Linked DNA regions of Homo sapiens. The protein of the gene in region 2 interacts with the protein of the main gene of each other region in a pairwise test. Each region holds a gene or a part of one and is shown on either strand. Other genes may lie near its edges. The genes, in order: MYL11, PEX1, ANXA8 and MSH5.

Region 1 (7,987 bases), on a different chromosome or scaffold from region 2:
GCCGCCCACATGTTCTTGATCTGGGGAAAGACGTAGGGGCGTCTCGCACAGGCCCTTAGTCTCCCCGGCCCCAGCCCCTTTGCTGCTCCGGCCCCGCCCCGGTCCCCACTCACCTCCTCCTGGGAGAAGCGGTCACACTGCGTGGTCAGCAGCTCCTCCAGGCTGGAGAGAGGTGACACAAGGGGAGTTGCGATTGGGTTCCTGGTTCCTTTCCACTCCCTCGCACCTCATCCCCGATGCCAGCCCCAGCCTCCCCTGAAAACCCAGGTCACTCTACTTCCTTCATTGGCCTCCCAGACACTCGCTTTTGCCCTCTCCGCCCACATTTGCTGTGAAAATGCAATCTTACCGCCCATTACCACAATCTTAACTACTCCCTTACCTCTGGCAGTGCCTAACCCTTCGTAGGAATTTTTGGGTTTTTGTTTGTTTTGAGACAGGGTCTCACCCTGTCGCCCAGGCTGGAATGCAGTGGTTTGATCACGGCTCACTGCAACCTGGAACTCTTGGGCTCAAGGGATCTTCCTGCCTCAGCCTCCGGAGTAGCTGGGACTATAGGTGTTTGCCACCACTCCCGCGAATTTTTTTTTTTCTTTTTTTTGGAGACGGAGTTTTGCTATTGTCGCCCAGGTTGGAGGGCAGTGGCGTGATCTTGGCTCACTGCAACCTCCGACTCCAGGGTTCAAGCGATTCTCATGTCCCAGTCTCCCTAGTAGCTGGGACTACAGGCGCCCGCCACCACGCCCAGCTAATTTTTGTATTTTTAGTAGAGACGGGGTTTCACCGTGTTGGCCAGGCTGTTCTTGGACTCCTGACCTCACATGATCCGCCCGCCTTGGCCTCCCAAAGTGCTGGGATTACAGGCATGAGCCACTGTGCCCGGCCAGCCCACGAATTTTTTAGTTAAGTTTTTAGAAACAGGGTCATGCTGTGTTATCCAGGCTGATCTCAAACTCCTGTCCTCAAGTAAATCCTCCTGCCTCTGCCTCCCAAAGCACTGGGATTATAGGCCTGAGCCACAGGGCCCAGCCTTGGTAGAAATTTAAGGAGGCTGTCAGTGTGGGAGCAGCTGGTGGAGTGGGGGAAGGGTCGGAAGGGTGGGGGAGCCGATGCTTACAACTTCTTCTTGATGGTGCCCTTTCCCTCAGGGTCCAAGACCTTGAAGGCTCCGGTGATCACATCCTCAGGGTCGGCACCTGTGGGGGTCAGAGGGCACATGAAGCTGATGGGTCCCTGAAGGGTCTGGGAAAAGGCAGCCGGGGCCTTGGACCCAGGACACTCCACTCACCCTTGAGCTTCTCCCCGAACATGGTCAGGAAGACGGTGAAGTTGATGGGACCGCTGGCTTCCTTCATCATGGCATCCAACTCCTCATTCTTCACATTGAGGCGGCCTGGAGGGGGTTGGGGGAAGCATGGGCTGGAGCAGGCTCCTGGGGCCGGGCCTGCGCTTCCCACTAATTCAGCTGATCCCATTCATTTTTCAGCTGGGTAGACTGAGGCCCAAGGTGGAGCTGACAGGGCTGGAACCCAAGGCCACTGAATTTCCTAGACTCTGCAGCCTTGAATATTCCCACCTGGGGGTAGGGGGCTCACCCATGGCTGCGAAGGTGTCCCGAAGGTCCTCCTTGTCTATAATACCATCACGGTTCTGGTCGATCACAGTGAAGGCCTGGGGAGGGCCGTGGTGGGGAGGGTTAGGTCCCCCATGGCCCAGCCTCAGCATCCCTACCCCAGGAGGATCAGATGCTGGCTCTCAGCCAACTGTCCTCTTCCACCCCAAGCAGAGAGGGGAGGAAGGAATTCTAAACCTTTCCCCTCCTTCAAGCAGGTGCACATTCCAGGGAGAGGGCCAGCAGGGCTGCTTTTGGTCAGCCTTCCAGTTTCCCCGTCCCCTCACCCACCTCTTTGAACTCCTGGATCTGAGTCTGGTCGAACATGGAGAAGACGCTGGAGCTTCCGCCCTCTACTGTCCTTCTCTTGGCCCTCTTGGGTGCCTGGAGGGTGAGGGTTGAACAAAGGGGCCCATGGACCAGTCCCTCCACCTCTCTGGGGGCAATGGATTAAGAGTCAGAATTCTTCGAGTCCCTGTTCCTAAAGCAGCCCTTTGGCCTGAGTCTCCCCTTCCTTGGGACCTCTTTGCTGAGGGGGCTTGCTTTGATTGCATTCCCCAAATTCCCGTCTGTGGCTCCTGGGTCTCCAACTCTCCATCCCCCACAATGGGTGGAAGCTTCCTTATCTTCTCAGTGTCCTGAGCCTAGCTCCTCTGAGCCTCAGACTTGCTGTGTGACCCCAGCCACTCATTTGCCCTGTTTGAGCCTCTACTTTTCTTTTCTTTTTTTTTTTTTTTTTGAGACAGAGTCTTGCTCTGTCACCCAGGCTGGAGTGCGGTGCTGCGATCTCGGCTTACCGCAACCTCTGCCTCCCGGGTTCAAGCGATTCTTATGCCCCAGCCTCCGTAGTAGCTGGGATTACAGGCATGCACCACCACGCCCAGTTAATTTTTGTATTTTTAGTAGAGACGGGGTTTCGCCTGTTGGCCAGGCTGGTCTCGAACTCCTGGCTTCAAGTGATCCAACCACCTTGGCCTCCCAAAGTGCTGGGATTACAGGCGTGAACCACAGCACCTGGCCTGAGCCTCTACTTTCTCATTTGTAAAATGGGATGGGAGTTATTGCCTGGCTGGTGCCAGAGGGCCTTAGGAAGATGGAGTACAGGAATGAATGGATCAGGCTTTGAGAGGGACTGGGCCCCTGTGAGTTGAATGTCTGGGCGGATTATCATTGATTGGATCCTTTAGGCCATCACACAGTCTGTTTTCCATCAGTGATGCCGAGAAAGAGATGAGCATCCTTTTAACTTTTTGTTGGACTGGGAACCAGCTACTTTCTTTCAAAGGGTGAGGCTGCCCTGAGGTCTAAGGGATCTGGGCAGGGGTTGGAGGATTCTCACTCACCATGTCTTCAGTCTCCGGGGGGCAAGGCAGCGGCTCCGGCTGGAAAGAAGCAAGGAGTCAGCATGGGGCAGTCCCTCTGGGGTTATATAGTCCTGCCCCAGGGAGCCCTTAACATACCAAGGTAACCTTAGCCCTGCGGGTGCCCACCCCAGATACCAAAATAGCCCAACTCAGGGCCTCTCCTTTCTTGGAGGGCTGGCAGCAGCTGGAGCCCAGCGGGGAGGAAGGGGGGAGCATGTCTTGCGATGCATGTCTCACTAGGGCCTGGGCAAGAAGAGATGTTCTTTCTCCCAAAGAGGGGCTGGAATGTGCCAGAGTTTAGAGGGGACGCAACCCAAGGCATCATTCTGGGAGATAAATGAACCAGATCCTGTACCCCTGAGTGGGGTGGGCTCAGATTTAAACCCAGTAAACGTCTGGGTGCAGTGGTTCACACCTGTAATCCCAGCACTTTGGGAAGCTGAGGCAGGAGGATTGCTTGAGGCCAGGAGTTCAGGACCAGCCTGGGCAACATAGTGAGACCCCTGTCTCCCTTTTTTTTTTTTTTAGACAGTCTCGCTCTGTCTCCCAGGCTAGAGTGCCAGTAGTGTGATCTCGGTTCACTGCAACCTCCACCTCCCCTGTTCAAGTGATTCTCCTATCTTGGCCTCCCGAGTAGCTGGGATTATAGGTGTGCCACGAAGCCAGGCTAATTTTTTTTTTCTGTATTTTTAGTAGAGACAGGGTTTCACCGTGTCGGCCAGAGTGGTCTCAATCTTCTGACCTGGTGATCCATCCACCTAGGCCTCCCAAAGTGCTGGGATTACAGGTGTGAGCCACTGCGCCTGGCCCCCGTCTCTATTTTAAATTAATAAAATAAACCCAGTAAACATGTATTGAACACACACAGTGTGCCACGTGCTAGGCTGGGCTTTGTGGATGTACTTTGGCAGACACAATCCCTCCACCCCCACATGGTGGAGTTCATAGTCAAGTGTGTGTAAGTGTGAGGGTGGTGAGAAAGAGCCATCTGTGGAAGCTGAGGGATCAGGTGGGTCTCCTACCTCCCTTCAAGGAGAGGGGAATTTTTTTTTCTTTTCTTTCTTTTTTTTTTTTTTTGAGATGGAGTCTTGCTCTTGTCACCCAGGTGGGAGTGCAATGGTGCGATCTCGGCTTACTGCAACCTCCGCCTTCTGGGTTCAAGCGATACTTCTGCCTCAGCCTCCTGAGTAGCTGGGATTCCAGGCACCCGCCACCATGCCCAGCTACTTTTTTTTTTTTTTTTTGAGATGAAGTCTCGTTTTGTTATCCGGGCTGGAGTGCAGTGGCGTGATCTTGGCTCACTGTAACCTCCGCCTCCCGGGTTCAAGTGATTCTCCTGCTTCAGCCTCCCGAGTAGCTGGGACTACAGGCGCGTGTCACCACGCCCGCCTAATTTTTTTGTATTTTTAGTAGAGACGGGGTTTCCCCGCGTTAGCCAGGATGATCTCGATCTCCTGACCTTGTGATCTGCCTGCCTCGGCCTCCCAAAGTGCTGGGATTACAGGCGTGAGCCACCGTGCCCGGCATCTAATTTTTTGTATTTTTAGTAGAGATGGCGTTTCACCATGTTGGCCAGGCTGGTCTTGAATTCCGACTTCAGATGATCCACCCGTCTCGACCTCCCAAAGTGCTCAAAGTGCTGGGATTACAGGCATGAGCCACCGCGCCGAGCCAAGAGGGATTTTTTGAGGCAAGATGCTTTGTGGTCTCAGGTTTTGTGCTGGGCCTTGGTTTCCCCTCTGTAAAAGGGAGATGTAGTTCCCATCCCACAGAACTTGCCTTATAACTAATAGAGACAGGAATGAATGCAGAAACTGACATACCAGAGCTGGTCAGGAGCCCAGAAGTGGAGGGCGCAGCAGCCCTGTCTAGGAGTATGGGAGTGGCTTCACGAGGGCCAGGGAGTCAGGTGCAGGTGGAGGAGCAGATGTGCTGGGCGGAGGGCATGGCCTGAGCAAAGGCCTGGAGAGCGGAAGATCAGAAGTGTTCAGGTGGCCAGAATTGTGATGGGGCTGGTGACCAGCCCCTGAGGGGCCTTTGCCAGGCACAGGACGGAGACCCTGGGGAACCTTGGAAAGGTTTCATGCAGAAGAAGGATGTGATCTAGTATGAGTCTAGAATATTTTCTCTGGGTACTGGTGTGGAGGCTGGAACTCAAGAGGGGAGGAAAAGACCCTAAAAGGACAGCCAGCTGGTCACTTTCTGTGAGGTGCCTTGATAGCCAGTGGCAGCTCACTTTATTCTGGCCAAGAGCCAGCTTGGCTGATTGTGTGACTTTGATGTACCCTCTCTTCTCCCTCTGGGCCTCAGTGACCCAGTCCCCTCCATGCAGCAGAAGTCTGGAAAAATAGTGGCTGAGGAAGCCCCAAGTTGGCAAGGACAACCATCTCCTTCTCCTCCCGCTCCCTCTAGGACCCGATGTCCTGAGGAAGATGCCTCCCCCTGCCCTGTCCCCCCTCCTCCAGGCCCATGCCGATACCTCTAAGACATTTTCTTTTCTGGGCACTGAGGCCCCAGCCACCTGTTGTCTCTAAGAAGAGAGAAGGAGCCACCCTAAACTTAGCAGCTGCCCTTAGCCTCCCACACCAGCCCCTCCCTGCCTCAGACAGCAGCTGCCTCGCCTTATAGGGTTACCACGGGGGTCCAGGCCAGGGAGGAGCCCACTTATTACTGGGTTCTGGGAGAGGAGGAGGACTCCAAAAAGGGGAATGGGAGGAGAGCTCAGGAAGCTTGGGTCAAACGGGAGATGGGAAAGGTGAGGAGAAGGAGATCAGACACTGAGTGGGAATTGACAGGACATGGGGCTGAGTTGGGAGTGAGGGACCTTAGAGGACTCAGAAACCAAGGAGGAGCTGAGAAGTCGGGAGCTAGGTCTCACTGGAATTCCAGGATGGTGGATGCTATATGGAAATCAGAATATGGGGGTCAGAGAAAGAAGAGGGCGTTTAGAAGTTGGAAGGTTGGAGCTCATAACGTCAGGTCTTTATGCTTGTGATCTAAGGACAACCTGGAGCGCTCATGAGATTGAGGTCGGGATTCTCAGTGGAACATGAGGAGCACAGAGGGATGTGGCAGTGAGGGGAGAGGGGTTGACGGGACTGGGGCCTTGGATCCCCAAAAGAATAGTAACACACATATGGGGAGTTCATGGTATTAGGGATTCATGGATTTGGGGTTTGAGATCCCCACTAGAAGAAATGGAGGGGGTACTCAGAGGGATAAGGTCTGAGGAACTGGAGCCTGGGTTCTGGGGAGGAGCTCAGATAGATGGGAACTGAGGAGAGGGACTTGGAGGTTGGGATTCCCGCAGGAAATGGGTGAAGCAGAGATATGGGTTGCTTATAGGATCTGGGGGCTCTGGCTATTGCCACCTGGGCCTGGAGTGTTGGGGTTAGTTGGGGGCCGAGATCGGAGAATTATAGAGTAAAGGATGAGAGTACTGGGTCAGGGCACTGGATCTGTGGTGGGGCTCAGGGTCCCACAGACCACCAGAGTGTGGGGCTCAGGAGCTGAACGAAGAATAGGGGACCGGAAAGGACTCGAGAGGGGGCAGCGCGGCACTCATTGGTTGAGGGCTGCACTAATGCCCCCGCCCCTTCTCCGTGCTGTCCCCAGCTGTCACCCTCCCATAAGGCTTGTCTCCGGTTGTCACCGACTATCCCTGGGCTGGCACCGCCTGCTGGCAGCATCTTTGCCCTTTGGATGCTCCCATTGGCTGAGACAGCTATCTATTTTCCTGTCCTGTGGCCAAAGTGGGAGAACACGATCATTGGCTGACGGGGCGAATTAATCTCTAGCTTGCCCCGCCTCCTCCCAGCTGTCATTCCTTACTGACCATTTTGGGAGACCTAAAGAATTCTTCAGCTCTTCCTATTGACTGCGGATGCTGTCTGTCACCGCCTAAATAGACATCACTGCCTGTCAATTTGACCTCCACCTGCTCCCCTTTTCATTGGCTCCCTTTTTACCATTCCTATTGGTTAAGAAGCCTCCAGGCCCCACCTCTTACTCGCACAGCCCTGCCTCCTCCTCCGCCCTTCCGCGGTCATTCACCCTTCAGTCATATTCATTGGCCAGGAGGTTCAGACCCCTGCGTTTCTATTGGTTATTTCTTTCGTCCCATCGCCCCCTGCCTTTCCTCGTCCTCTGATTGGTCTTACAGCCCTAGCTTTCTCCGTTTCCTCTTTCCAGATGACCCACCCCTTTTTCGCCTCCAGCCCCGCCCACGATTCCAACGATTGGCAGAAGCCCAGTTCTCTCTCTCCCACTATTCGTCCAAATCCTCTGACTAGGCGGGAGAAAAAAGGAGCGCGATGAGCCAGTCCGCGCGCAGGCGTGGAACGCCGAGACGCTGGCGCGGAGCCGGCTCTGCGGCGTGTGCGCAGGCGCGAGGTCGGCGGCTCGCCCCCAAGCAGGAGGGAGGGGGCGGTGGCGAGAGCGCGCGAGGGGGTGAGAGGGCTCGAGAGAGACCCCGGCGCGCGGCGCCCCCCGACCCCTGCCCCGCCTCTGCGCGCCCAGCGGCCGCTCCGCCCCCGGCGCGCGCCGAGCCGCGCCCTTCGCCCTCTCCCCTTTCTCGGCTGGCCTCGCCGGGAGGCCCGAGGGGCGGCGCCTTCTGCGGCCTCCCCGGCGGGGGGATGTGAGGGGCGGCCCGCGGCCATGGAGACGGGCACGGCGCCCCTGGTGGCCCCGCCGCGCCGTCATGGCGCCCCCGCGGCCCCCTCGCCGCCGCCCCGGGGTTCCCGGGCCGGGCCCGTCGTGGTGGTGGCTCCGGGACCTCCAGTGACTACGGCCACTTCGGCCCCCGTCACCCTGGTGGCCCCCGGGGAGGCGCGGCCCGCCTGGGTCCCGGGGTCGGCCGAGACCTCTGCTCCGGCCCCGGCCCCAGCCCCGGCCCCAGCCCCGGCTGTCACGGGCAGCACGGTGGTGGTGCTGACCCTGGAGGCCTCGCCCGAAGCCCCAAAGCCGCAGCTCCCCTCCGGCCCGGAATCCCCAGAGCCCGCGGCAGTGGCTG
Region 2 (4,028 bases):
AGTTTAATACTAGTGATCCACTAAGTCTTTGTTTCTATCCCCTGGGATTCTGAGCTTTGCTGGTTTAGAACCTTGAACCTCCTGGGAGCAAGTGATCCTCCTACCTCAGCCTCCCAAGTAGCTGGGACTAGAGGCATACCATCATGCATGGCTAATTTTTTTTTTAAGAGATGGGGTCTCACTATGTTGCCCAGGCTTACTTGTATATTTTAATTAATGTTCTCCTTTTTGCTGTTCCCTTACCCCATTACTATATAGTTAAGATATTAGATACGCAGATTGTATTGATGGTGGCTAACTTTATAATTTAGTTCATATATGAGAGAATATCAAGATAAAATCATAACTGGAACTAGGAGAGGAATGGATGTCATTTAAATATCTTGGGCTTGGAGCTGGATGTAGTATAGTAGAGGGATGTGATTTCATTTCTGGTTGAGCGGATAATTAAATGTATTTGAATTATGTGTAAATTTCACATTTTTTGATATACAAAGAACAGATAATTGTATCAGTAGGTAATAGGATATTTTATTTCAAAACAGTGAAGAAGCTGCTAAGCATAAAATTTGTCAAATGCTACAAAGGTGATGAATATACAACTGGGAATTCCAAGAAATTTAAATTTAATTACATTCTTTATTATCTTTTCCTCAAAAGAAATAAATTAGTTCCACCATTTGGCTAATATTATTTCATTAAAGACTGAATTTAGATTTTAGGAAATAAAATATGGAATCTGTTATAATGTCCCAATTTATACTACAGTATTAATCTCAATCCTGATCATTACATAATTATAGCATTTACCAATCTGTGATTTTATAAATTAACCAAATTTGTTAAATTAAGAAGAAATTCATAGACACCATTTTTTTCCTGTTACAACATATGGAAAAGCCATCAAAAAACTTAACAGAACCAAATCAAAAAGAAGTATATTTTATGCTAAAGTTACTTTCTGTCCAGGTCGAAACATTGTTCCACTTTGATTTTTTCTCCTCTTTGGATTTTGAAAGCTTTCATATCTGAAAAAAGAAAGAGATAATTTAATATGTATAAATACTACCATTACAAAACAAAAGATAATGGATTGTTGGCAAACACAATTATATTTTAAGAAATGAACGGGAAATAACAAACTAGAAAAAAAAATTCCAGTCACAGAAATTAAAAAGAATTCTTACAAATAAAGTTGCACTCCAATAGAAAACGGAGCAAAGGGGATGAAGAGACAAGTTAGAAAAGATAAAATACAAATGACAATGAATAATATGAAAAATTATAACTTCTACACTTTAATCAAAGAAATGTAAATTATTGATATCATTTTTCTAAAATCAAAAGGGCCAAGTTTAGAAAAATACTGCAACACACAATGTTAGTGATGGTGCAGTATATCTGGCAGGCAATTTGGCAATACATTTCAAAAGCCTTAAAAAATGTGAGCTCCCTGTTATACAATTCCACCTCTATCCTAGTGAAACAATTAGATATGTGCATATATTCAGCTGCAAGAATGTTCATTACCACATTGCCTGGGAGCAATTTAAATGTCTAAAAATTGGATATTGTGGCATAGCTACACTATAAAATGACATTTAAAAACAATAAAGTAGTTAACATTTAAAATGTAAAACAATTTTCAGGATGTATGTGGATAAAGGGGGACTGCTATATAGCAATATGTACAGACTGTTCTTACCATAATAGGAAAACATATATAAGCATATAAACAAATATGCTTTGGGAGGTGGTGGGCTTAACAGAAATTTGTTTCCTTATTTTTCCTTACCTCTGTTTTCTGATTCTTCTTTAATAAATACATAGCACTAACGTATGTACACATACATACATACTTCAAAGTACTGCAAAATTAGATAACAAAAGGTAGCAGCTTCTAAAGACCAGGAATAAACATCTCTTAAATTGAATCACACTGAATCATTGACCTAGAATGGTTCCCAGTCCATGGGTCTCAGATGCATAGGTGGCCATAAACTCAATTGCAAGGATCCTTTAAATCCAATGTATAACAAATGTGGTCCACAAATGAATAAATCTGAATGTATTTAAATGTTCTTGAGGTCAATAAAATATTAATATAAATTATTTTGAAGGCAAAACAGGTATTTTTATAACAAAATTTTATAAACTATACATTAGAATCACTTTCAACTTTTAATTTTCCTTCTTATTTCTTCGAAGTTACTAAATTTTTTTTTTTTTTTTTTGAGACACAGTCTCGCTCTGTGGCCCAGGCTGGATGGAGTGCAGTGGTGCAATCTCGGCTCACTGCAACCTCCACCTCCTGGGTTCAAGCAATTCTCCTGTCTCAGCCTCCCAAGTAGCTGGGACTACAGGCACATGCCACCACACCTGGCTAATTTTTGTATTTTTAGTAGAGATGGGGTTTCCCCGTGTTGGTTAGGCTTGCCTCGAACTCCTGACCTCAGGTGATCCACCTGCCTTGGCCTCCCAAAGAGCTGGGATTACAGGCATGAGCCACAGCACCCAGCCCAAAGTTACTAAAATTAAATGAGTCCATTATGAATAATTCAAATATAATCAAATGAACTGGTTAATGAAAACTCAATTTTGACTTCTGTACTTCTGACATTTTGGGGTTTTTTAATGCATAGCTACGACACATATTTTTTGAATTAGCTTTTAAATATTCAAAATATTTTTATTTTAAACACGAACTTTAAAGGTTTAAGTGTAATACTATGTCACTTGTAATAGTAGCTGTACTTCCAAAACAGAATCTGTTACTTACAGCTCAGCAAAATTCTTCCAGTCATCTTCACTAATGGATGGTCTTGTGTGACCAAGTGCAGTCATTAAATGTGACTGACTAATAGCCAGTCTGGTTTTGATTGGTCCTGGTTGGTTCATGGATTCGTCCTCCTTAAGTAAAAAAAGAAATTGACGAAGAGTTAAATTAAGGATGTAAAAAAAAATGTGGTAGTCCAGTTGTTACTTCTTATTGTCAGTTTTTTCAAGAGACCATACGTTCTCTTCCTTATAAGATAATGAAACATTGAAAGCAAGGAAGCACATAACCATGACTGAGTTAATGTGTTCTGGTCCCTTGTTTATAAATATAGCTCGTTTATAAGTCAAAGAAATATATATCAAAAGGGTGAAACAATTTTTAAGAAGTTTTAACAATTATAATGAGGGGGAAAAAGCCATACTCCACTTTGGCTCCGGTATCTGCCTTTGATAATACTGATATCTGCCCTCAGTTGATCTCTTTGTTCTTGTGTAAGTTCTTGGCAACCCTCTTGTGAAGCTGTCCTTAACACTGGAGGCTGTGAAAACAACTGGTCTTTCCCAGGAACTCCAGGCAAATCCTGAGTCATGGAGCTTGGTGCAGAGAGACATTGTGAGCTCTGCATGGTAAATTGTAGTAATGAAAGATGGAAGGAAGAGGGGGAGAGAAAAAACTATGTGTTTACCAAATATAAAAATTAAACATTTTAAGCAATAAAACATTAACATAGATAAGTATACATGTTAATTAACTGAAATTAAGCAAGCTGAAAAGTTGTTCATCTTTTATAAAGGTTCACTGATACCTGTGTTATAGAACCACCATCAAGTGAAAATTGCCATAACACAGGGTAGGTTTTTTTAACTTTGTTGCTTAAATCCAACACACTAATGCCCAAGGACAGGTTTCTTCATTTTCAGAAAGTAAAGTTATACTAAGTTTCTGGGACATTTCTAAATAGAATAAATTAAAAACAGAATTAAAGACTAAAATTAAACCACCACCTTACTGTTCTTGGGAATAAAAATGAATTGCTTTTATATTTTTAAAGTCTGAGTTAGGCTAGGCATAGTGGCTCACACCTGTAATCCTAGCACTTTGGGAGGTCAAGGCACGCAGATAGCTTGAGCCCAGGAGTTTGAGACCAGCCTGGGCAATATGGTGAAACCTCGTCTCTACAAAACATACAAAAATTAGCTGGGCATGGTGGCATGTGCCTGTAGTCCCAGCTACTCAGGAGGCTGAGGTG
Region 3 (6,887 bases), on a different chromosome or scaffold from region 2:
TCCATCCAGAGAGAGCCAGTGTGGTCCCAGATATTGCTCATCGGTGTCCACACACACGATATCCCTTGCTTGTGGAGTCACGCTCTGCTATTACTCCTGTTAGCACTTCAAGCCCCTTGTGTGTGCCAGACCTGGGCCAGGTGCTTTAGAAGCAATGCTTATGTCATGGCTTCCTCAACAGTTGTGCTAGGTAAGTACTGATGCCTCACTTTACAGAAAGGGAGCTGGACTCCCTTACACAGCTAGTAAGTGATGCTGTTGGGACTCCCCAGCCTGACTCAGAAGCTGAGCTCTATCTACCTCCCCTGCCCTACTGATGACTCCACCTTTCCCAGACAATGAGTGTTCCTGGAACGTTCCACTGAAGGAAGCTTCACCCACAGGAACGCAGGTCATCTGGGAATGTGGGAGGCATCTCAGCTCTCAGTGCCTGCCGGCTTCCCTCTGCCCCAGCACTCGGGGGCTGTGGTGCACCAGCGAGTGGCCAGGCTGTGTAACCGCATCCCTGAGGAGCATGCAGTCCCGCAGGGGTGCGGTAGGTCTCAGGTGCAGCATTTGTAAGCAGCTCCCTGGCTGGTTCTGATTTTGCTGCATTGAGAAGCCTCTGTCTCACTTCCCACTCTAAGGTTTTAGAAAATAAGTGTTCTGGGAATCGGAGCCCTGGCTATCAGTGTGGAGTCCTGGAGCTCCAGACCTCCTGCTGAGAAGGAAGGGTCAGCCTCAGGCTCCTGCAGGGTCTTGCCCAGGGCCGTGCTAGTCCAGACAGGCACATTTTCACTGAAAAGGTGACTCAGACCAGCCTGTGACTACATCTATTAATATAACTTGTTCTGTGACAGGCACAGGGGAGCTGCCACGCCTTGGCCTTCCCCTGCTACGTGGCTGCCCAGAGGCCTGGGAGATGGGTTTGTCTCTATGAGAGACACAGAGGAAAAGGCAACACCAAAAAGAGAGGTGCAGATGGACCCTGCCTGCAGACAGATCTCTCTCCAGTGGCTCCCTCATCTCCTCCCATCGCGTTCCTGGCCCAGCTTTGTGCCTAGAGGACACTGGGTCTTCGCTAGCAGCTCAGCTGTTGCAGGTGGGGTCTACCTGTGAACTTGCTACCCCTAGCCAGCTCTCACATGGGGTATGGACGACCAGGGTATGGTTTTGGCCCTGGAGTCAGGCTGTTCAGATTCTCACCTAGACTCTCACACTTACTAGTGAGTTCGGGCACCTGCCTAGCCTACTTGTGCCTCAGTTTCCTCATCTGTGGATAAGGATACTGGTGTCTACTTCATAGACTCCTTGTGAGGTTCAAGGGAGATATTGAATGTGAGGTGCTTAGAGAAGGGTCCGGCCACAGAGTAGGGACTCAGTGAGTGTCACAGTGATCCTGTCAATTTGGCAGGTCCCTACATGGACAGCCCTTTGTCCTGCTGCACTGGGTGCAAGGCCCAGTGCCAGACTGCCTTGGCCAGCAACTGACTTTGGAAACCACCCAGCACTGGGCTCTCCCTGCCATGTCCACCTCCTCAAAGGCAGGTTCCCAGCAGTCTGGTTGAAGCTGCAGGCCTCCATGGCCCCTTGTCCTGGAAGAAGGCTGCTTCCCTGGGGGCCAGGACAGCTGCCCCACCTCAGCCTGGCTTCCTCTTTGTCCCACCTGTCCAGAACCTAGCATGTCTGACCCTGAGGACACTTGCTTGGGTTGCGACATCTATGATCCAGAGACTCCCTGAAGCTGGACAAGCCTGGGTATCCCACAAAAGCTCACAGAGAACCTGGGGCTGGGCAGAGAGACCCAACTGCTCTCTGACTGGAGCCTGCTGGCCATTGGACCCTAGCAAGTCACTCAGTGTCTCTGAGCCTTCATTTCATCATCTGCAAAACAGAAAGTGCAGCCCTGACATCCTGAGGCTGCCTGGGAGGAAAGGAAAAGGGTGTGCAGAGCCGGCAGCCGGGAGATGTCACCTCTGTCCCCTTCTGGATATTCAACTCCTTAGCACAGCGATGGCCTCAGGCTCAACCATAGATGGAAAGCTCCCGAGAACCCATCAGTTCTGCTGGGGATGGGCTGCCCTGAGCCCCGGGTTCCTCCAGGCTCTAGCAGGCCAGGTCCTCCTGCTTCCCCTCTTCCCTCTCCAGTCTTGACAAATGAACATCATTGATCCCTGAGGTGAAGGCATTGATGGGTCCCCAACAGCAGGTTCAGGTTACTCTCATGCTCAAAGCCCTTCAGTGCCTTCCCACTTCTCTTAAGGTAAAGCCTAACTCCTCAGCCTGCCAGGCAAGGCCTTTCAGGACCTGGCCCTGCCTGCTTCCCCAGGTCCATCTCCTCCGGTACCAGGACCCTTGAGCTGTGCTGAGCAGCTTCCCTCGAAGCCAAGCTCCCTGCCCTCTGACCCTCTGCACACAGTTCCCTCTGCCAGGAGCAGTATGCCTGATTCTCCCCAAATGCACACGTGTGTGCACCCCATACACATTTACACACAAGGCTCAACCATGATACCCCCTCCTTTGAGTGGCCCCACCCCTGCAAGGGTCCCTCCCCTGGACTCTTCTCAAACCTCAGCTTCCCCCTTGCATTTCTAGATTTCTTCATCAGCCTGTCTCCCGGCCCAGGTCCCATCCCTGCCGTGGGCACTCTAGGCCTGGGACTGTTTCTTCTCGGCCCCTTCCCACCCTCCATGCTTGGCCCAGGAGGCAGCCAAATGTAGACTGAGCCACTCCCAGCCAAGGGCGACTTTACATTTCTCAGGACTCCCTGGTGACCAGCACCCAACACCATGCAGGAACCCAAATCTCCTGCCAGCTCCCACTTACCCAGGATTTCCACCAGGCCATCTCTTTCACCTCGGGGGCACCTTTCCCAGGGAGATGAAGAGACACAGGTTGGCCTCTGCTGGGACTCCACACGTCTGGCTCCTGCAGCTGAGGAGTGAGCAGGCCGCTCACTTGGGTGTGGGGGTGCAAGCCCGCCCAGGGCAGCGCCACACCTGCCTGCCGTCCCCTCGCCCCCGGGCTCTGCCTGGCTTTGGGCATCTCCTGTGGCTCCCAGGCCCCACCCAGACACTGCCCAGGCCTGCTCTGGGGAATTACACAACTCACTGGCAGATATTTGGGCTGTGGCTGTTACGCATACTGGAAATTCTTAGCTCCAGCCTGCGAAAGCCCCACTCAGTAAACACAGCTCCATGTTGATTAGGCTGGTCTCAAACTCCCGACCTCAGGTGATCTGCCCACCTTGGCCTACCAAAGTGCTGGGATTACAGGCATGAGCCACCGCACCCAGCCCATTTTCATCACTCCTAATAGCCATGGAGTATGCCATTTAATCAACTGCATATGCAATATTATTTTTTTTTTCCGGGGGCAAGGGGCTCATATTCACCACAGATGGGAGGCCAGTTGGTGAGAAGGTGGCAGGCGGCACAGCCACCTTATACAGCATGCCATACTGGTCCACTGTCAGACCGGTGATGGCCTCAGCTCCATCACCCCCCAGGCTGACTCTGGCTCCTGCCTGGCTCTGCCCGGCCACCACAACCCCTCGGGACCATTCAGAGGCATCACTGGAGGATGTGTGGTTAGTGGAGCAGCTGGTCATGGGGAGGTCTCGTTTCTTTGGTGGAAGGCATTCCTGGTTCCTCTCATGAACAGGTTTCATATTGCTTTGTGGTGTTCCTGGAGCCTGGAAGGAGTTGGCTTGCTCCCTGGGGCATCAGGAGGGGCTTCTCTGTAGCTTCTCTGAACCCCTCTCTGCTTCTGGCTGGGGCACCTACATCTGAGCTTCCAGTGGTGCTTCTGAGCAGCTGTAGTAAGCGTCCTCCCGGCTGGCTCGGGAGCCAGCCCATTTCACCACGCTTCCCGGGATCCACCCGCTCATCCTGGAGCCGCTGCAAACCTGGCCGCCGCCATCCCCAGCCCCGGAGCTGCCCCATACCCCTGTATATGCAATATTTGTTAACCATTCCCTTTTGGTGCCCATCTAGGTACAGGTATCATTTTTGGAGCTAAAGTATCTATAATACACTGGAAGTAACAGATGTCACCTCCATATTGTACGCCAAACCTAATAAGCAGAGCAAAACTTTTCATCCAAGCGATTTGGTTAACATTTTAGGATGTTTCTAATCTCTCAGTAATACAAATATGCTACAATAGATCTGTGTGTTTATCCTTTGGGCACCTGTGTGTGCCTGTGCATACCTGGAGAATAAAGTCCTGTGAGAGGAACTGCCATCCAAAGAGGGTGTTTCAGTCTGTACTGCCACCAACAATGTGCTTGTGCTTCTGAGCTTGCGTTTGGGTCAGGAGAATTTGAAAGTCATCAGGAACCAAACCAGGATATAAGGTTCAGCTGTAGCTGGAAAGTGGCAAGCGTTCCAAAGCTAAGACATTGGCTATACCTGGGCTGTTCACAAACTGTGAGTCCAATTCTAGATGAGATCCAGAAGTATGGTGAGCAACTCACTTATTTTTTAAGCAAAACACCTTTTTTTCTCATTTCTGCTAAGAACAAATAGCTTCCAGCAAGAGAAATAGGGGATGCAATATTTTTACAAATTACTTCTCTTTTTTTTAATTAAAAAATGTTAAGTTAAATGCTACTTAAAGATATGTTTAACCTCTATGATACTGACTTGCTCATGAGAAGGAGAGAGGGCCAGGCATCTTGCCCACTACTACCCACTATCAACACTTAGGCCTGACATCAGTCTCTAAATAAATATTCTGGGCCAGGTGCGGTGGCTCACGCCTGTAATCCCAGCACTTTGGGAGGCCAAGACAGGTGGATCATGAGGTCAGGAGATCGAGACCATCCTGGCTAACATGGTGAAACCCCGTCTCTACTAAAAATACAAAAAATTAGCCAGGAGTGGTGGCGGGCACCTGTAGTCCCAGCTACTGGGGAGGCTGAGGCAGGAGAATTGTTTGAACCCAGGAGGCAGAGGTTACAGTGAGCCAAGAACATGCCACTGCACTCCTGCCTGGGCAACAGAGTGAAACTCCGTCTTTAAAAAAAAAAAAAATCAACAGCAGCTTCTAGGATGATGAGCAGTGACTCAGTCTCTCCTTGACCAGATTCTGTAACCGTCCAGCAGAAATGCTTATCTGATCTCTGCGAGAACAGGAAGCAGCTCAGTGGGGGCCTTCCTTGCTAAATTCTTCATCAAGCTGGTCTGTTATCTGCCCTGAGTCCTGCAAGAACATCTCAAGAAAAATCCCAAAAACATGCAAGACAAATGAGGGTCCTCCCTTAGCATGTCTTGAAGCACTGAGGCACCTGAAAGTTGTATATAGTTTCTGGTGAAACAGTTTTTTAGGAAATGAAGCACAGACACTAACTATTCTTCCAGAAGAGCCCCTTCCTGACATGAAAGATCTTACTTAGCATGACAGAGAAGCATCTGTTTCATCATGAGGACCTATCCAACCAGCAGCAGGGGCCCCAGTGCCAGTGTCCACCTCAGCAGAGGAGACACGGGGGACATGCAAAGTGTTTCTGTTGAAAAATACTTCACCTAGGGTGACTATAGTTAGCAGCAATGTATTGTATATTTCAAAGTAGCTAGAAGGCTAGGTACAGTATCCCATGCCTATAATCCCAGCATTTTGGGAGGCCCAGGCAGGCAGATCACCTGAGGTCAGGAGTTTGAGACCAGCCTGGCTAACATGGTGAAACCCCATCTCTACTAAAAATAAAAACAATAAAAAATAATAATAATAAAAATTAGCCAGAGATGGTGGCCTGCGCTTGTAGTCCAAGCTACTTGGGAGGCTGAGGCAGGAGAATTGCTTGAACCTGGGAGGCAGAGGTTGCAGTGAGCCGAGATCACACCATTGCCCTCCAGCCTGGGCGACAGAGCAAGACTCTATCTCAAAACAAAAACAAAAACAAAAACAAAAAAACAAAGTAGCTAGAAGAAGGGACTTGAAATGTACCCAACACATAGTAATACCAAATATTCAAGGTGATAGACACCCCAAACACCCTGATTGATCACTATTCTGTGCATGTAATAAATACTTAAGTGTACACCATAAATATGTAAAATATGTTATGTCAACAAGAAAATACTTTGCCTAGTGTTTCCATCCAAATGGGAATAAATCCAGCGCTCAATGTACACATGTCATGGCTTTTTATTGAGACTGGGGAAGGGCCGTGGTAGCAGGTGCACTCACTGTCCAAGTTTGTCCAGACTTTCTGCTGCATGGGTGATGGCATTTGTGACTGTGTTGGTCACTGTCTCGGTGATTTCCTTCATCTTTTTGTCCCCTGACTCCTGGGCTTTCTTTATGGCTTCAGCAATGGCTGTTGGAAAGAGGAAGAATGTCCTAGTGATCCACCTGCTGAACTTGTGTCCCCTTGAGTGGCCTGTGGGATGTGGCCATCTTAATGGATTAGTCTCTGGAGTGGCCCGATGGGACCAAGGGCAGCAGGATTACTGCAGAATGAATTTGAATTTGGTTTTAATTTCCCCAACAACTTGCATTTCTTCAACTGTGAGTGAGACTGAGCATCTACTCATGGGTACATTGCCTGCTTATCCTTTTTTCTGGAAAATGCCTGCTTATGTCTTTTGACCATTTTTATATTGGGTTGTTATATTGGATTATCATTTTTATGACAAATATTTTTCATCAGTGTATAATTTTTCTTTTGGCTTGGTTTATAGTGTTTTTTTTTTTGGCTATAGAAAATTTCAGTTTTGGATTGTCAAATTTACTTAATATTTCCTTTATGGCGCTGATTTTTTTGTCATAGTTCTAAAGATTCTCCCCTCTCCAAGATTAGGCCAAAGTCTCTGATGTTATTACTATGTCTAAATGTTTACGATGTCTTCCCCCTCAAAACTCATATGCTGAAATCCTCAGTCTTAATGTAATGATATTAAGGG
Region 4 (7,032 bases), on a different chromosome or scaffold from region 2:
AGGTTACAGGGATTAGCACGGCCACTGGGCACGGATGACACAAATTCAAGAAGCGTTCCATATTGGGGAAAAAAAAAAGGGCTGGGCATGGTGGCTCACACCTGTAATCCCAGCACTTTGGGAGGCCGAGGCGGGTGGATCACGAGGTCAAGAGATCAAGACCATCCTGGCCATCATGGTGAAACCCTGTCTCTACTAAAAATACAAAAATTAGCCAGGCATGGTGGCACACGCCTATAGTCCCAGCTACTCGGGAGGCTGAGGCAGGAGAATCACTTGAAACCCAACCCGGGAGGTGGAGGTTGCAGTGAGCCAAGATTGTGCCACTGCACTCCAGCCTGGTGACAGAGCAAGACTCTGTCTCAAAAAAAAAAGAGTGGGGGAAATATCAAGCAATTTTCTGTATTTCTATATGATTTCTATCACTTGGCAACCAAATAGTACATAAAAGGAAGTTTCTCTTTACAGAAATTTCTGGCTAATAAATGAAGAAAGAATCAGAGATTTAAATGCTACTACTTTGTAATTGCTAAAGAATTAATAGATGGCTGGGTGTAGTGGTTCACGCCTGTAATCCCAGCACTTTGGGAGGCTGAGGCGGGTGGATCACCTGAGGTCAAGAGATCAAGACCATCCTGGCCAACATGGTGAAATCCCGTCTCTACTAAAAATACAAAAATTAGCTGGGCGTGGTGGTGTGCGCCTGTAAGTCCCAGCTACTCAGGAGGCTGAGGCAGGAGAATCACTTGAACTCAGGAGGCGGAGGTTGCAGTGAGCCAAGATCGTGCCACTGCACTTCAGCCTGGCGACAGAGGGAGACTCACCTCAAACTAAATAAATAAATAAATAAATGAATAATAGATTTAGGTATTAAACATCAGAACATTTGCCAACATCAGAAAAAGAGAGACAATCGGACATATCAGACATTATGTTCCTCTACTTCTAAAACAGTATTGAAAAAAAAAAAACTCTGAACCTAATCATGCTTCTAGAACTAAATATTAATTTACAGAAACTATAGAAGAGAGAGAAATGTGCCAAAAACATCTAGGAAATGCAAACAGCAAAATCCAGGCTAATGGAAAACACTATAAGACAAATAATAATCTAGTTTCTTCAACAAATTGCCAGGAGAAGAAAAAGAGAAAAAGAAAGAAAGAACAAGAGAGAAAAGATAGAGAAGGAACCGGTAGATTAAAAAGGACTAGGGCCATCATCTGACTGGGCATCGTGGCTCACACCAATAGTCTCAGCACTTTGGGAGGCCCAAGCAGGAGGATCACTTGAGCTCAGGAGTTTGAGACCACCTTGAGCAACATAGTGAGATCCTGTCTCTACAAAAAATAAAAAATTGGTCAGGTGCAATGGCTCACGCCTGTAATCCCAGCACTTTGGGAGGCCGGGGCAGGCAGATCATCTGAGGTCGGGAGTTCGAGACCAGCCCGACCAACAGGGAGAAACCCTGTCTCTACTAAAAATACAAAATTAGCTGGGCGTGGTGGCACGCACCTGTAATCCCAGCTACTTGGGAGGCTGAGGCAAGAGAATCACTTGAACCCAGGAGGTGGAGGTTGCGGTGAGCCGAGATCACACCATTGCACTCCAGCCTGGGCTACAAGAGCAAAATCCCGTCTCAAAAATAAATAAATAAATAAATAAATAAATAAATAAATAAATGCAAGCAAAAAATAAAAACTTAGTTCGGTGTGATGGCCATCACCTGTGGTCCCTGCTACTCAGGAGGCTGAGGGGGGAGGATCGCTTGAGCCCAACAGTTTGAGGCTGCAGTGAGCTACAATTGTGCCATTGCACTCAAGCCTGGGTGACAGAGTGAGACCCTGTCTCAAAAAAGAAAAATTTCAGATATTTGATGATACCAAATAATACAATTTTTAAAGTAAGATAACAATACTGTTATTCTTTTTAAAAAATAATTTTCTTTTAGAAATTACCCTGAAATATTGGCCGGGTGAGGTGGCTCACGCCTGTAATCCCAGCACTCTGGGAGGCCGAGGCGGGTGGATCACGAGGTCAGGAGATCAAGACCATCCTGGCCAACATGGTGAAACCCTGTCTCTACTAAAAATACAAAAAAAAAACTTGGGCATGGTGGCATGTGCCTGTTATCCCAGCTACATGGGAGGCTGAGGCAGGAGAATCGCTTGAACCTGGGAGGCGGAGGTTGCAGTGAGCCGAGATCATGCCACTGCACTCCAGCCTGGTGACAGAGTGAGACTCCATCTCAAAAAAAAAAAAAAAAAGAAAAAAGAAATTACACTGAAATATTTATGGATGAAATGATATAATGGCTGGGACTTGCTTCAAAATAATCCAAGAAAGCCAGGTGCAGCATCTCAGGCTTATAGTCCCAGTTACTCTGGAGGCTAAGGTGGGAGGATTGCTTGAGCCCAGAAGTTAGAGGCTGCAATGAAATATGACTGCACCACTCTGCTCTAGTATGGGTGACAAAGCAGGACCTTATTTAAAAAAACAAACAAACGACAACAAAACCCACAAAATAATCCAAGAGGGGAAAGTAGAAAAAGATATAGATGACACATACTAGGCTGGGCACGGTGGCTCCCACCTATAATCCTAGCACTTTGGGAGGCCGAGATGGGCAGATCACTTGAGGCCAGGAATTTGAGACCAGCCTGGCCAACATGGTGAAATCCCATCTCTACTAAAAATACAAAAATCACTCCAGTGTGGTGGTGGGCACCTGTAATCCCAGCTATTTGGGAGGCTGAGGTAGGAGAATCACTTGAACTTGGGAGGCAGAGGTTGCAGTGAGCCGAGATCGCACCACTGCAATCCAGCCTGGGCGACAGAGCAAGACTCTGTCTAAAAAAAAAAAGAAAAAGAAATAAAAAAAAATTGGCGTAAGTTAAAGTGTTGAAACTGCATGGTGGGTACATGGGGGTTAATTATATTATTCTAAATATTTTTTACATTTTCCTGAATACAAAGTTAAAAAAAAAAAGAGGGAGGCCGGGCCTGGTGGTTCACACCTGTAATCCCAGCACCTTGGGAGGCTGAGGCAGGTGGATCACCTGAAGTCAGGAGTTCAAGACCAGCCTGGCCAACATGGTGAAATCCTGTCTCTACTAAAAATACAAAAATTTGCCAGGCATGGTGGCGGGCGCTTGTAATCCCAACTTCTCGGGAGGCTGAGGCAGAATTGCTTGAACCCAGGAGGCGGAGGTTGCAGTGAGCCAAGATCGCCCCATGGCACTTCAGCCTGGGCGACAGAGCGAGGCTGTCTCCAAAAAAAAAAAAAAGAGGGTAGAATAAAATTGGACAGCATGTCTAGGGTACAGACAGTCTGGAATACAGGCTGAGGGCCTTTACCTGGACTTTTGGGATTCAAGAAGGAAGGCCTTACCTTGTAGAGAACCTGCCAGTCGCTGACCTTGGTGTGGGACAACTTCATGCGTTTCAGAATCAGCTACAGTCAGACAAGGTTACAGCCGCTGTTTTCTCTTCCCTCACTCTAATGCCCCTCAAGAAGCCCACTGCCCAGTATCAGCCCTCAACCTCCTTCCCCACCTCCCTGCCCTCCACCCTGGGCTCACAGGCACGTTCTTGATGTGACCCAGGAGCCGATGCAGCATCTGAGCCATGTCCAGATTCTGGGGCAGCAGAAAAAACTGAATGACGTCCAGACGAGAACTGAGCTCCCCCAGGTCATGAGTCGGACGTGTGAACCATAGCCTGGAAGTGAGGGTTTGGGTGGGGGTACTACAAGTTACATCTATCATCTTGATCTCAGTTTGCCAAAAAGTGTGCTTGCAGTCCCTGGGGATTGTGGCAATATGTATCCACGATGTGCTATGGGAATGTAGTGGCAAGTGCAGTGTCCTACCCATTCAGGTGTGTTTACATGTATCTACTGAAAATTGCTAGATGTGAGCATAATTGTGTCTACATATCACAGTTTCAACGGATAAGACCGTGTGTCATTCCATGTATATAAGTAACGGAGCTTGTCAATATTTTAGAAGGAGAGCAGTGTGTTGAGGTATTTGTGTGCCAACACTGCAGCTCACTCTGAGGCTGAGTAAGAGACGGTGAGTCAGTATGAGTTTGTATGTCTTTTTAGCTGTGAAAGTGTCTCTGGGTAACAGCAACAGACATTCATCTTTTCATATTCTTCCTGTGAAAACATAACTGTCCCATTAGGGATGATAAGCTTTAATTCATAATAATGGTCAACACTGCAGAGAAAAAAGGATTGGGGAGGGACATTTAAGGGGCTTCAACAACGTCTTATTCTTTCGTTTTTTTTTTTTTTTTGAGACAGAGTCTCGCTTTGTCGCCAGGCTGGAGTGCAGTGATGCGATCTCGGCTCACTGCAACCTCCACCTCCCGGGTTCAAGTGATTTTCGTGCCTCAGCCTCCCGAGTAGCTGGGACTGCAGGTATGCGCCACCATGCCCAGCTAATTGTTGTATTTTTAGTAGAGTCAGGGTTTCACTATGTTGGCCAGAATGATCTCGATCTCTTGACCTCGTGATCTGCCCGCCTCGGCTCCCAAAGTGCTGGGATTACAGGCGTGAGTCACCATACCCGGCCAATAGTGTCTTATTCTTTTTTTTTATTTTATTTTTTATATAGAGTCTTGCTCTGTCGCCCAGGCTAGAGTGCAGTAGCACAATCTTGGCTTACTGCAACCTCCACCTCCCAGGTTCTGGAATTACAGGCACCCGCCACTGTGCTCAGCTAATTTTTGTATTTTTAGTAGAGACGGGGTTTCACCATCTTGGCCAGGCTGGTCTTGAACTCCTGACCTTGTGATCCACCCGCCTCGGCCTCCCAAAGTGCTGGGATTACAGGCATGAGCCACCGCGCCCGGCATGTCTTATTCTTAAATTGGCTGATGGATATATAGATATTTGTATTATTATTATTATTTTTGAGATGGAGTCTTGCTCTGTCGCCCAGGCTAGGGTACAGTGGCGGGATCTCGGGTCACTGCAACCTCTGCCTCACAGGCTTAAGTGATTCTCCTGCCTCAGCCTCCCCAGCAGCTGGAACTACAGGTGTGTGCCACCATGCCCAGCTAAATTTTGTATTTTTAGTAGAGATAGGGTTTCGCTGTGTTGGCCAGGCTGGTCTCAAAATCGTGACCTCAGGTGATCTGCCTGCCTCAGCCTCCTAAAGTGCTGGAATTACAGGCATGAGCTACTGCGCCTGGCCATTTGTATTACTATTAATAGTTTTTATAGAGACGAGGTCTTGCTATGTTGCCCAGGCTGTTCTCAAGCTCCTGGCCTCAAGCAGTCCTCCTGCCATGGCCTCCCAAAGTGCTGGGATTACAAGCATAAGCCACTGCACCTGGCCCGATAGTATTATTATTTACATCTTTTTTTTTTTTTCTGAGACAGAGTCTTGCTCTGTTGTCCAGGCTGGAGTGCAGTGGTGCGATCTCAGCTCACTGCAACCTCCGCCTCCCAGGTTCAAGCGATTCTCGTGTCTCAGCCTCTGGAGTAGCTGGGATTACAGGGGTGCACCACCACTCCCGGCTAATTTTTGTATTTTTAGTAGAGATGAGGTTTCACCATGTTGGCCAGCCTGGTCTCAAACTCCGGACCTCTGGTGTTCCACCTGCCTCGGCCTCCCAAAGTGCTGGGATTACAGTCATGAGCCACCACGCCCGGCTAATTATTTACATCTTTTTGTGTGTTGGAGGTATTTCCTAATAAATGAAAATAAATTCAGGCCAGGTGCGGTGGCTCACGCCTGTAATCCCAGCACTTTGGCAGGCCAAGGAGGGCGGGTCACGAGGTCAGGAGATCAAGACCATCCTGGCTAACGCGGTGAAACCCCGTCTCTACTAAAAACACAACAAAATTAGCCGGGCGTGTTGGCGGGCACCTATAGTCCCAGCTACTCGGGAGGGTGAGGCAGAATGGTGTAAACCCGGGAGGTGGAGCTTGCAATGAGCCAGGCCACTGCACTCCAGGATGGGTGACAGAGTGAGACTCTGTCTCAAAAAATAAATAAATAAATAAAATAAATTCATATACAGAAATAAATGTCTCATCTGTGTTTGTCTAATTCCGGGTATCCCTGTATACTTATTGGCCATGAGAGTGTGAGACTCTGTAGGGACTTGTGAGCCCACAAATTCTTTTCTACATAGAACAAGTACTAAGGATGCCATCTTATATAAGAGCCAACATGTGCACACACTAGGTCCTGAAGATTTGTATCTTACATTGCAGTCTGTGGCCAGTTACTTTGGGTTAGAACACCCCAGATTTGAATGAAGCGGAGCATCCAGATGGCTTCAAGGGTGGGTTTCAGGTACCTCTGCTCCTTGGTCACTGAGGGCTCCCACCAGAACAGTGTAGGCCAGTCTGTAAATAGCCATCCCCACTTTAGAAAGCACATGCGCTGCACTAAACACTTAGGTATCTCTGACTCACGCCCTGCTCGTACTGGGAGAGACTTTAGTTAAACCAAACTGTAAATTTAACAACTGAGAAAATGAAACCGTTAAAAGATAAGCAACTTGCCCAAAGTCATACCGCCAATGAGAACAGCTAAGTCTCAAAATCATGTCTCCAGACTCCTAGGACAGTGCCCTTTAGAGCATACTGTGACATTCAGTCATATTCTTGGTGCCTGTACAGCTTTTAGTTCTTGAACTCCTGGCCTCAAGCAATCCTCCTGCCTCAGCCTCCCAAATGCTGGGATTATAGGCGTGAGCCACCACATCTGGCCCTATATTATTATTTACATCTTTTTGTACGTTAGAGGTATTTCCTAATAAATTAAAATAAATTCGTATACAGAAATATTAATAAATATGTCACCTGTCCTTAGTTCATTAGATTATATGATGATTCTTCAAGTTATATGATCTCATGCCCTGTCTGATTCCATTTGGGGAATACGCATTCCTCCCCGACCTTAAATCCAGCTCTCTTCTCCACTGAGAATTCTCTCCCTCCCATCTGTGGCTGAGATTAAAGATCTGCACCTGAAGCACTGAAGAATGTGTGGGTAATTAAATTACCCTGCC

Evidence for each region.
Region 1: the proteins of PEX1 (region 2) and MYL11 interact in binary tests that used the Homo sapiens proteins (3 or more experiments, as listed by UniProt).
Region 3: the proteins of PEX1 (region 2) and ANXA8 interact in binary tests that used the Homo sapiens proteins (3 or more experiments, as listed by UniProt).
Region 4: the proteins of PEX1 (region 2) and MSH5 interact in binary tests that used the Homo sapiens proteins (3 or more experiments, as listed by UniProt).

What each region holds. Positions count from the first base shown.
Region 1 is NC_000016.10:30,369,829-30,377,815, reverse strand, and holds the start of MYL11 (myosin regulatory light chain 11), read right to left. Parts: upstream 3,015-7,987; 5' UTR 2,959-3,014; coding exon 2,956-2,958; intron 1,997-2,955; coding exon 1,904-1,996; intron 1,672-1,903; coding exon 1,596-1,671; intron 1,394-1,595; coding exon 1,289-1,393; intron 1,197-1,288; coding exon 1,118-1,196; intron 163-1,117; coding exon 114-162; intron 21-113; coding exon 1-20. Other genes in the region: TBC1D10B (TBC1 domain family member 10B), read left to right, coding at 7,633-7,987. UniProt on the Homo sapiens protein: Myosin regulatory subunit that plays an essential role to maintain muscle integrity during early development. Plays a role in muscle contraction.
Region 2 is NC_000007.14:92,486,514-92,490,541, forward strand, and holds the end of PEX1 (peroxisomal ATPase PEX1), read right to left. Parts: intron 3,399-4,028; coding exon 3,201-3,398; intron 2,911-3,200; coding exon 2,780-2,910; intron 1,029-2,779; coding exon 944-1,028; 3' UTR 512-943; downstream 1-511. UniProt on the Homo sapiens protein: Component of the PEX1-PEX6 AAA ATPase complex, a protein dislocase complex that mediates the ATP-dependent extraction of the PEX5 receptor from peroxisomal membranes, an essential step for PEX5 recycling.
Region 3 is NC_000010.11:47,481,108-47,487,994, forward strand, and holds the start of ANXA8 (annexin A8), read right to left. Parts: upstream 3,009-6,887; 5' UTR 2,914-3,008; coding exon of another isoform or gene 2,827-2,913; coding exon 2,806-2,826; intron 1-2,805. Other genes in the region: protein FAM25G, read right to left, coding at 6,168-6,301. UniProt on the Homo sapiens protein: This protein is an anticoagulant protein that acts as an indirect inhibitor of the thromboplastin-specific complex, which is involved in the blood coagulation cascade.
Region 4 is NC_000006.12:31,749,986-31,757,017, reverse strand, and holds part of MSH5 (mutS protein homolog 5), read right to left. Parts: intron 3,718-7,032; coding exon 3,579-3,717; intron 3,452-3,578; coding exon 3,389-3,451; intron 1-3,388.